Linked DNA regions of Homo sapiens: region 1 is linked to region 2. Evidence: fine-mapped expression QTL. A gene starts in region 2. The other region holds a variant in brackets. All regions are shown on one strand. Distances are between the middles of the regions. Region 1 overlaps CCDC92 (coiled-coil domain containing 92). Region 2 holds the start of ZNF664 (zinc finger protein 664).

What was found. PIP is the estimated chance that this variant, and not a neighbour inherited with it, causes the effect.
Region 1: its variant is fine-mapped to the expression of ZNF664 in whole blood (TOPMed, PIP 0.99).

The regions. Positions count from the first base shown.
Region 1 is chr12:123,939,156-123,944,523 of GRCh38, reverse strand. CCDC92 (coiled-coil domain containing 92) reads left to right here. Exons shown (of 5, transcript NM_025140.3): 2 at 160-252; 3 at 1,031-1,177; 4 at 1,739-1,780. The coding sequence starts at 219. Among named protein-coding and RNA genes, the nearest start is that of DNAH10OS, 6.9 kb to the right of the region's middle. The variant A/T (reference allele first, on the strand shown) is at 2,541.
Region 2 is chr12:123,970,581-123,975,948 of GRCh38, reverse strand. ZNF664 (zinc finger protein 664) reads right to left here and starts at 2,734. Exons shown (of 5, transcript NM_152437.3): 1 at 2,597-2,734; 2 at 1,929-2,063. CCDC92 (coiled-coil domain containing 92) reads left to right here and starts at 3,118. Exons shown (of 5, transcript NM_025140.3): 1 at 3,118-3,420. It overlaps ZNF664-RFLNA (ZNF664-RFLNA readthrough), which reads right to left and starts at 2,734. Exons shown (of 5, transcript NM_001347902.2): 1 at 2,646-2,734; 2 at 1,929-2,063. RefSeq lists silencers at 2,166-2,395, 2,506-2,585, 2,656-3,525, 3,556-3,675 and enhancers at 2,896-3,633, 3,634-4,371.

The DNA of each region.
Region 1 (5,368 bases), 31 kb after region 2:
CTGTGGCATCCTACAAATGGGCTGCGTCCTGGGAGCCATTGAGAAGTTGTACCTCCTTTACGGAGGGTTCTCTGGAATAGCAAATTAGGGAAAATGCATTCTGAGGTTCTGTATTTACAATAATAATTTATAAGCAAATAACTCACATTTCATCCTCAGTATTTTTCAGTGCTGTACAAGCGTCTTGAATTACTCTGGTAGCTTTTCCAGAAAGACCCATGACTTCACCACATTTCTCGAGTTACGATGAAGGTAGAGTCTGGGGCCCTGAGTGAGCATCAGATGCTGGAAGCTGGGGCTGGGAGGGGCCAAGCATTGGGGACAGACTCCAGACACCTGCACCACCCCCTGGCCCCATGAGATACGTTCTCAGACCTTCCCAAGAAGGATCTGTGGCTCCTCTCAGTGCTGTGAAGTGCAGGGGGCTTCCCTCTGGAATTCAGCCCATCTCTCCCTCCTACTTTGGCTGGCTCCAGATGCCATTTAGAGGAAATGTTTGGCCCATTTCCCAGGTGCCAGCTTTTCCCATGAGGAAGCTGTCAGTGCTTCCTGGTCAGGGAAATCTTTTGGGCGTGATTTGGTCAGTCACAGTCTGTTGGGGTGAGGTGGTGCGTGGAGAGGACAGGATTTGGAACCAAGGGTCCCTGGATTAGAATCCCTGCTCCATACCTCACTGGCTGTGTGACCCCAGGCTCGCGAATCTGCCTCTCTTGATCTGTTTCCTCATGAGTAAAGGGAAATGACTTTGTACTCTGGAGTGGGCCTCACTCATTCATGTGCCAGGCATCGTGCTAGGTGCTAGGGCACACCCCAAGGCGTTCGGGAAGCAGAGGCTGCCGTCCCTGGCCTGGGGCCTCCCTGCAGTGATGGGAATGTAGCCCTGGTGCCCCCACACCCTGCCCTTCAGGAGCCGTGGTTTCCTTCTGCTCTCTCCTGGGAGGCGCACACCCCTCTGCACCCAGAGCCAAGGAGGGCAGGCAGCCCTGGGACCCTCTTCAGGCACCGCAGCCAGGGTCTGTGTTACCCACAGGTCCTCTGGATGTCAGCATGGCAGCCACAAACCTGGAGAACCAGCTGCACAGCGCACAGAAGAACCTCCTGTTCCTTCAGCGGGAGCATGCCAGCACGCTCAAGGGGCTGCACTCCGAGATCAGGCGGCTGCAGCAGCACTGCACAGGTACATCGGGGAGCAGGCCCGGGCAGGCGGGGGGCGGCTATGGGGCACGGCAGAGCCCAGCGTCAGAATGTGCTAGGCCTGCCCTGCCCCCAGCTCCCATCATCGTTGCAGGAGTCCATCTGAATGCCTTATATCATCCTCATTGCATAATCAAGATGCACTAAGCATAAAGCTGCAAAGCCTTTTCTTGGCATACTGAGGACTTAAGAGATTAAAATACAATGGTTAGAATCTCCAATGTGTTTTGGAACTGATAACCAAGATATAGCCTGTGTGATACATAGAGCCAGCTGCTGGATTGTTTGGTTTGGATGGTTGGGATATGCTGTGGGGGAATGGGGAAGGGAGTTTGGGGGAACAGAGGGTGCCCTCTGACCCCAGGGAGCACAGTGGCCGCAGATGTTTTCTGCTGCTCTCATGCTCACCTCTCCTGCTGCCAAACCCTGCTCTGTCTGGGTAGGACTCGCTGGCTAATCGTGGGAATCGGTTTTGCATTTTCAAAGCTGATGAAGATTTTGAAATGTACAGTAAAAGAATTAATGTGTAACATTTCCCTTTTAGATTTAACATATGAGCTGACAGTCAAAAGTTCGGAACAGACAGGTAAGAACTCCTCCCCAGAAGTAAATGACAGTAGGTTTCCCTTTGTGGTACGTGTTGGTGCCGTTTTCACTAGTCACACACTTAGGAGAAAATGCTCTTGCTGGGAAGAGTTATGCGTGTGGCCTGAGCTCTCTAAGAGAAGATGAGAAGGATGTTTGGATCCCTCCGTGTTGCAAGTGGTTATTAGTGGGCAGGGGGATGAGTGATTTTGTTTTCTTTTGAATGACACATATATTTGGAATGCCTATTATATGTTTTTCTGATTTTCCTACAATGAACATGTGTTCCTTGTGTAATCAGGACATAAAAATAGACGTGAGTTAAACCCAAAAGGAGGAGTAACAGCAGCAGCAGCATTGGGCAGAACCGCCCCCGCTCCTCCGTGTCGCTGCCGCCTAGCATGGGCCTGGCACAGAGCAGCAGCTTGCTAAATGCTGGCGGGCGAGTGGTCACATTACTAGACAGCTCCCTGAGGATCTGGGGCTTTCTCTGGACTACAGCCCCAGAACCCTCCCCAAACCAGAATCCTCCAGGACCTCAGGAAACCCCAAAGGGCAGCTGCCTGCTGGCCGCCAGAGAAGAGACAGAAACCCAGGCCTTCCCAGGGCCCTCTGTGCCTGCTGCAAAGAGCCTGCTCCCTAAAACAGGGTGGGTGTTTGGAAAGTGCTGAATCCATGTTTGTGCAGAGACACCTGTTGGAAACGGGTTTATCACGTCGGGAAGGCAATGGATGGCTCAGCAAGGCTAGTTTACTTTCTGC[A/T]GAAAGGGTGCAACTCGCCAGCAGTCTTACCACGAGAGCACACTCAAACAAAGGAGACGAGGACATTTATAATCTTCATAACCTGATGCAATTGCCCTATGACTGTGTCCAGTTTCCATTGACTGGAATGGGACCTCACATTCTAAGCTTGACCCGATTGGCTAACAGCTTGAAACTTTCCTAAATAGGCAAAAGGGAAAGAGGACAAAGAAAAGAGGAAGCTAGTCATGAGAGGGTCAGGAGAGTTTCCAAATAAGGAAGAGCATGCACTATGGTCCAGGGCTCGCTCAGCCCTGCGCAGGCGTGCCGGGGCAAGGCGGAGCAGCTACACTGGAACATATATAGAGATATACATAGAGCAAGGAAATGACAAGCTCTTTATGGTTTCAAGAAACTTTGAAGAACTTCTCCATTCCCCACAATGCCTTTTTCTAAACAGGCCTCACAATGGCAGTTACTATTCATGAGAGTGTCCAGTTCCTTGTAAAAGACACAGACCATTTCCACCAAGCCTTAGTGGATTACCGAGCACTGATTTTTTTCCATTTGCATTGCTCATATTACAGCCTCCTGAGTGCGCCACCCAGGAGCCCAGACATCTTTTTGTCTGCGTGTGGTAGGGAAGGCGCCGTGGGCTTCTTGGGGTGGTGGAATGGGAGCCTGTCCTCAGAAGTCTCCCTGTGGAGGGATACCAGGGACCTCCCCCGAAGCCCTGGGACTGGGAGCTGGGCCTGTGGGAATGCAGAGGAACAGGATTTCAGCCTGACACTAGGGACCTCCAGCGTCCACACCTGCCAGCACTGAAGCCTTGGGAAAGGAGCTACCCGTGTCATGGAAGCCAGGGCGTCCTCGCTCCCTGTCCTCTCCTGGCCCAGGCTAATCTGAAGCAGCATAGTTTTGCCCTGTGGCCTCTCCAGTCACGGTTCTCAACCTGAGGTCCCAAGGCCACCTGCCCACCCACCCACCCACCTGATGTAGTACTCCCAGCAGCAGCAGGGTCTCACAGCAAGGGCTGTGTCTTAGGGGAGGCAGTTTCAAAAGCCTCTCAGGTGGTTCCAGTCGGGGCGTCTCCCCTCCCAGTGGTGAAAATCATTGTTTTACATTAGTGCACCCAAAACTGCCCAATTCCAAGCAGTTTCGGGACCCAGGGTACAGCATAGACTCTTGGCTTCCCTCCCCTGGGGGCTGTGACCCCAGAAGTCTGGGCGGGCCCAGGGAGTGCGCAGGTTTAGAAGCGTTGCAGTGCCCTGACGCTCGGGCAGGCTCAGCAGTGCAGCGTTTGGAGACCAGCAGCAGTTGGCTGCTGTCAGCTCAGTGTGCACCAAGCTTTCATGGGAAGACTGAAATTTCCAGAAAGGGGGTACGTACAGAGGAGGAGGTGGAGTGGAGCTTTCTATAAAGAGCAAGAAATTGGCAAAACAGGAGGTGCTGATTCCTGGGAAGGACAGTCACTGAAGCAGCTCTCCAGAGCTGGGGATGGAGGAGCAGTCGTACCAGCTCCTTCCCACAGGACGGCCCACTCAAGTCGGGGCCGGTAAACATCAGCCCGGAGCCAAGGCTGCACCCTGGAGGAGGAGGCAGCACAGCTAGATGACTCTCAAGGAAGGATGATGAGGAGGATGTCTATCCAGGAGGAGCTTCTCTCAGGATGCTGTGGCGAAAAGAACCAGAGTGATGCTTAATGAGCCCCAGATTTGGGCCTCTGCTCTGACTCGGAGGGGCTGTGTGGCCTTGGGCAGGTTCTTTGACATCTCTGAACCTGCATCTTCATCTGACAGGTGCCCCACAAATCCAAGTCCCCAGTCCGACCACCAGGGCCCTCTGCCTTTGTGGGCTGCCCCTCACAGGACATGAGCAAAGCCCAGGGACAGCCTTGTTCCTGAATGTTCCAAACGTCCATCAGCCTTTTGCAGCACTGCCTGGGGGAAGAAAAATCCCAGGATGCTCACAGCAGGCCAGGGATGTGGTTGAAGGTCTGAGGTTGCAGCCCTTCCTCGGAAGGAGCCCAAGGCCCACTGTCCACCCGAGTGTGGGCTGAAAGCAAAGGCCCTGCGACAGGCATGGGTTGTTGTCCCACAGGCCCTGGGGGAAGGACAGCGGGTACCAGGCCCAATGCCGTGCCCAGGTCAGCATTTCAGGTTGCAGGGGTTCAGCCCAGGTGGCTGGGCTCCTGGGTCTTACAGTGTCTACAGAGTCGTGTGTGTGTCTCTGTCCCTCTCTCTACCTCTGAAACTGTGTTTTAGGATCTATTTTCCTTTTGGCAAAAGAAGAAACCTCATGAAAGGTAGTACTGCATGCATCCTTTTTAGGGAGGTCATTTGCTGACATTATACCTGCACATACACACACAGACACATGGTTTTTAAAACTAGAAACTTGCAATGGTTCAACTTAAAATTTTTCAACTGCATGGGGCAATACCCATTCAGTACACTCCTCGACTTACCATGGATATGTCCAGATAAACCCATGGTAAGCTGAAAATATCGAAAACACACTTTTGACTTACGGTATTTTCAACTTACATTGGATTTTTCGGGACATGACCCCATGCTAAGTCGAGGAGCGCCCATCACCTGCAGCGAGCTTGTAACATGCAAGTGTCCTGCACAAGACCAGTCCAGTCAGCTGTGGGCCCTCAAAAGCTCAGAGTCTGGCGGCGGGACATGCTGCAGAGCTGCTGCTAGCTCAGGCAGGTGGGAAAATTCAAAGCAAGACAGACAGAAGCCCGGGAAAGACGTCCAGTGGCGTCCAGTGCCTAGGCAGGCCCTGGGTGGTGGAGTTGGTACAGGGAAACTGGGCGTGCAGGTCTGGAGTTAGGGCAAGGA
Region 2 (5,368 bases):
TAAAACTCTGATGCAGCCTGCAAATTTAGTAACAATCCCTTTTCCCTGAAGGACATAAAAGCTAATCTGAATCTGCTGCTGCCACAGAAAAATACATGTACAACTTACAACTCTAAGGAAATAAGCTTAAATATTATAGTGCGAGTATTGTCTAGTGTTCAGTTTGCTAATATGTTTATTCACAGTCAACTAATTTATATGCCTTATTTTTTAAGGTATGTAAAACCACTAGGGGCTGGGCACAGTGGCTCACACCTGTAATCCCAACACTTTGGGAGGACTGCTTTAGGCCAGGAGTTTGAGACCAGTTGGGGCAAGATAGTAAGAGCCTGTCATTACAAAAATAAAATAAATCAGCCAGGTGTGGTGGCACATGGTTGTAGTCATTCCTAACTACTGGGGAGGCTGAGGCACAAGGATCACTTGAGCCCAGGAGTCCCAGGCTGCAGTGAACTAGAATCATGCCACTACACTCCAGCCACGGCAACAGAAAGAGACCCTATCTCTCTCTCTTTTTTTTTTTTTTTAATGAAGAGGAAGAAAAGAAAGCCCTAGGAAAAAATGCTTTGCAAAATATTGTTAAGAAGACTAATGTATTGTCAGTACTTGATAAAAATTAATTTAAAAAGTCACAAATTAAAAAGCATTCAAAGTTGACTATCTGTAGTGCTCTGTGATATGATACACACACATCTGGTCAAAAAATATAAATGATATTGCAAATAATTTTTGGATCACAAAGGCTAATAAAACCAACCTTTATATATACTACTTTACATTCCACAACACATACGCACTGTATCACTGAACTCTATGGAGCAGACAGAGCAGGCCATTTACAGAAAAGAAAACCGAGGTTTGGTGTGATTCAATGTCCTCCCCAAGGTCACACAACTTCTAACTGCTAGAGTCAGAACTACCATAGGGGAGGGGTGGCTGCTTCCACATATCAATTTCTTAACCAAAAGAGAACTTCATCATAAATGCCGAATCTCGATAATTAGCGTAGATCTGTGCTCCTATCACCGAAATTTCATCTCATCAGAGAACCACCACCAGCAAAAAAGCTGTTTTAAAGTTAAAACTTAAACTGCTATCAATTTGGGAAATGGCTAAACCATGATATACTGAAACTATGGAACATGGTGCAGCAGTTGTTAAAAAATGACTTGAAGCATTACATGCTAACATTGAAAGTTACGGTGCAACAGTCCTTGTTAAAGCAGTCAAAAATGATGTTAAGTGCACACACGTAAAAGTACTCCAAAAGATCTAGAAGGATAAACACCACACACATAATAGTCGGCATCCCTGAAGACAGAGGTTGATAGTCAAAGACAAAATGCCATCTCTGTGATATGCTGTTTTTACAAAGAAAATGTACTACTCTGCTAATTTAGAATTAATTTTTAAATTTTTAATTAACCTGCGGGTTGAACAAGGTCAATTTCCTGCTCTAAAAAACTATGCGTCTATGAAGGAAATAGGAGCCCTCTCTAAATAAGAAGCCAAAATGCCTAAAAACCGTTCCAGCCTGTGAAAACAATAAACTGTAAATATCAGAAAACGTTCCTTGAAGAAGGCAATAGCTCAGAAATCTTTTTTCGGTATCTGGTCTCCTTTGTTGCAATAAGACAGCCCGTAAGCAATCTAGCAACCAGAACAGTTCAGTTCGGAGCAGGCTCCCGGGGAGATTTAGTTGTTAGAGTTCGGCAAGAAAGGTTTCACAAAGGAGCTGAGTTCTGGGGGAAATGAGAGGTGATGTGGCGGAGAGATGGATCCGGACGGGAAAATGTCTGGGAGGGGGTATACGGAGTTCATGAGAAGCCGGGGACAGTGAGAAAACTGCAGTCGAGTCCTGGAAGGGGTGAGAACGCCTGCGGAGGCGGGAGTCAGAGGGAAGTGGACAGCGCCGGCAGCCGGTTTACCTGGGTGAGAATCCGGCCCTTGTTGTGGTCAAACAATGGAGGCGTCCGGCGGCAGCAGCCTTCTGCGCTGGGTGCGCGAGGGGTTCCTCATCACCTGAGCGGGATGCTCGCCTCCTCTGCCGGACGCAGGGCGCCCTGAAAAACACACAGCACCCCATGCAGCCGGCTCCTCCGCAGCCGCCCGGCTCCCCGGTCCCCTGGCGCGGCCATGACCGCCTCTCCCGGGACCCGCCTGGAAGGGCTCCAAGACGCGGCTCCACGGGCGACGAGGGCGGCAGCGCTCCCCCTTCCCTCGGCTCCAACAACAATGGAGCCTGGCTCGGGAGTCCGGCTCCCGAGGGGCCTCGCCCGGCCTCGCCCTGCCCGCTGCCCAGCCCTCGCTCGCACCGGCCGCCATCTGCGCCCCCCGGCCCCGCTCCCCCGCACTGCGGGCCCGCGGCCGACCGCCCGAGGCCCGAGGGGCGGCTTCTCAGCCCGGGACCCGCCAGGCTGCGCGGAGCCGCTCTGACCTTCCCCGCCATCCCGAGGCCCATCCTCCGGGATGGGTTGTTTTTCTTTTCTTTAAGCCACTCCACCTCCTTCCCACCCCCAGCCCGCTCCCTGGCCCCCGGCCCCCGCCTCCCTCCGGGAAAGAAAGAAAGACTGCAGCCCGGCCGCCGAGAACTCACTCCAAGTGAGGGGAGTCAGCGCCCCAGGCCGCGGGCGCCGCGCACCCACCTCCCTCTCCTCAGGGACACCTCACAGGTGCGCCTCCGAGCCGCGCGCGCGCGCGCTCCGCACACCCAGACGCCTCCGGGGGACAGCGCGCGTGCGCACGCACGAGGCCGGGGAAGCCCCGGGGGAGCGGGGGCCGCACGCATGCGCGGCCACCCGGCCCGCGCCCCCACCGCCCGCCTCCGCCCCCGCCCCCCAGCCCCGGCCCGGTCGGGCCCGGCCATCCCCCACCCCAGCGCCCGGCGCGCGCGCTCCCGCTCGCCTCCCTCGCTCCTCCCCGCGCCCCCCCCTCCCTCGGGCCGCGTTACCCAGGGCAACCGCAGTGCGGCCGCACCTGAGCTGTGCGCCTGCGTCCCGCGGGCCCGACCCTCCCTTCCCCTCGGCCTTCGCCCCTGCCCCGCCACAGCCGGGCGGAAGGGGGCGTAGCCCCGCCTCGCCAAGTGAATATCGGCCCGCCGCCCCCGCCCAGCCCGGCAGACACAGGCCCGCCGCCGCGCCGGCGCCTAGCCCGCCGGGTCAGCGCGGCCAGGCCTCGCCGCCGGCCCCGCTCCCAGGGTGCACCGCGGCTAGCGCTGGGGTGGGAGCGGGCGAGATGCGCCGGGCGGGCGGTGCCCACTGACCTCCCTCGGCGGCCCGGCCCGGGCAGCGCCCGAGCCCAGGCAGCCCCGCCCGCCGCGCCCCGCCCAGCCCATGGGCCACGGGCCCCCACCGCCGCCCGCCGGGAGGACCGAGCCTAAGAGGGCAGCCGCCTGAAGGAACGCGACGGCGGCGCCCGCAGGTGAGGCGGGGCCCGGGGTGTGTCGAGTCCGGCCCCGCTCACCTGGCAGCGCCGGCGGGGGCGGAGGGGCCGGGCAGGGGCGGAGGGGCCGGGCAGGGACGGGAGTTCGTGGCGAAGACTTTAAAAACCCTCCCCGCCGGGAGACGGGGGACGGGGTCCTCCTGCCCCACCTCCGGGGCTTGGGAGCCACGTTAGCTCCCCCAGGGGCAGGGGTGGCCCCGGGCGAAGGCAACTCGGGAGACGGCGGAGTCGGGGAAAGAGGGTCCCTGAGGCTCGGCGACCCCCGCGCCCGCCCCCGCGGGGTCTGCCGGCCCTTTCTGGGGAGGGGGCTCCCCGGCCCGGGCTCCAGTCCAGGGTGCGGACCGGCCGCGGCGCGCGCCCACCCCAGTGCCAAGGGGGAGGAGAGGCCGGTCCCGGGGCGCTCCTGTCTGCCCCGGGGTGGGATCGCAGGGCGAGGGATCCGCATTGCAGGTGCACCAGGAGCGCCCCGGGGCCTAGCCCGGCTTTGTCTGGGATGCTGTGGGGAGGAGGCCGTCTGAATCCACATCGCCTTTTTAAATGCTTGTTACCACCCGGGGAACCTTAGAGACCCTCCCTGACAAGTTGTATCGCCTCCCGTCCTGGTAGCCTTTCCGTAAGTACACTACCTTGCCAGCCCCTTCCTGAAGCTTTGATGCGGCTTTAGTTTACTCTGAGTAACGATTTGCCTGTGATTCGTGAAACGGAGCAGAATGCACAAACGCAGCAGAGCTCCAGGCTTGGCTACTGGGCTGCCGTCTGCTACGGCGAGTGAGTTTCTCTAACTTAGGTTTTCATGCTGACCTGTATTGTTTCATTTCAAGTTTTGGTATTTAGCAGTACGATCTAGTCCACTAAGGAAAATTAGGCTGCCAGAGAGAAAATATAACCGCGCTCTGTAGCTTAGGTTGCAGTAGTCGGTTTTATAACAAAATGCAAGCTACCACGCTGTAATACTTTAACATATTACGCAGTTCCAGAAACCTGTAAGAGTATTAAAACTAGGATTGCCATTTTAAAACTTTTACGTTTGAAATTTATTTAAAGAGCATTGGTATTGATAAAACGACTTTTCTTTTTTTTTTTTTTTGCTCATCAAGAATTCCCATGCATTTTCTCGCTATTGCATTGTAAGGAAAAAGATGCTAACGTTTAAAGTGGCTTTTACCTCCAAAGATGTTTTGAAATGTATGTAATTCTTTTGGCTAACTGTTCATCTTATGTGAAATATGCTTGGAAGAAGGCTTTAAAACTCGTGATTATATATACGGGTATGCGTACATATCCATACACACCACTGAAAAATCTTAAAATAGTTTTGTTACTCCTCTGCGTATTATAATTACTCAGTAAATTTAGTTTAGGTACATTTAAGATCTAAAGTACAGGACAATTATTTGTGTGAGATTTTTACTGTGACACATTTTAAATACATCGGTCTAACAAATAGGGTTTTTTTGAAATTAGATATTTTTATTAACTCTTTAAAAAACGAATCATTCATCTTGGGTTTATAACTCTTTCATCTGCCATGTTGGATAAATTGCAAAATTGGATAAATTGATCTCAACTTATCCAATTATCTTTGGATAAATTGATCTCAACATAATTACCTAATTGGTAGGATGCCTTTGCAACGATACTAACGTTAATAAAATGTTGATGCTTTTAAAAAATACTTATGTTAAAAAAGCATTTTCTCGTATTTCTGGCAAGAAAAGTCATGGAACTTTTTTCCTTCTATCTGGAACAAGGTCAGCCATAAATAGTTTCTAATACATAGTGGGCACACATTTGGTAACTAAGATTAATTATATCTACTGAATTTACTGAATTCCATGTCCTTCAAGGGCAGTGACTAGGTGACTTTGTATCTTCACACACCAATGTTGCAGTAAATGTTTGAGTCAGATTGAAGTTTCATCCCGGC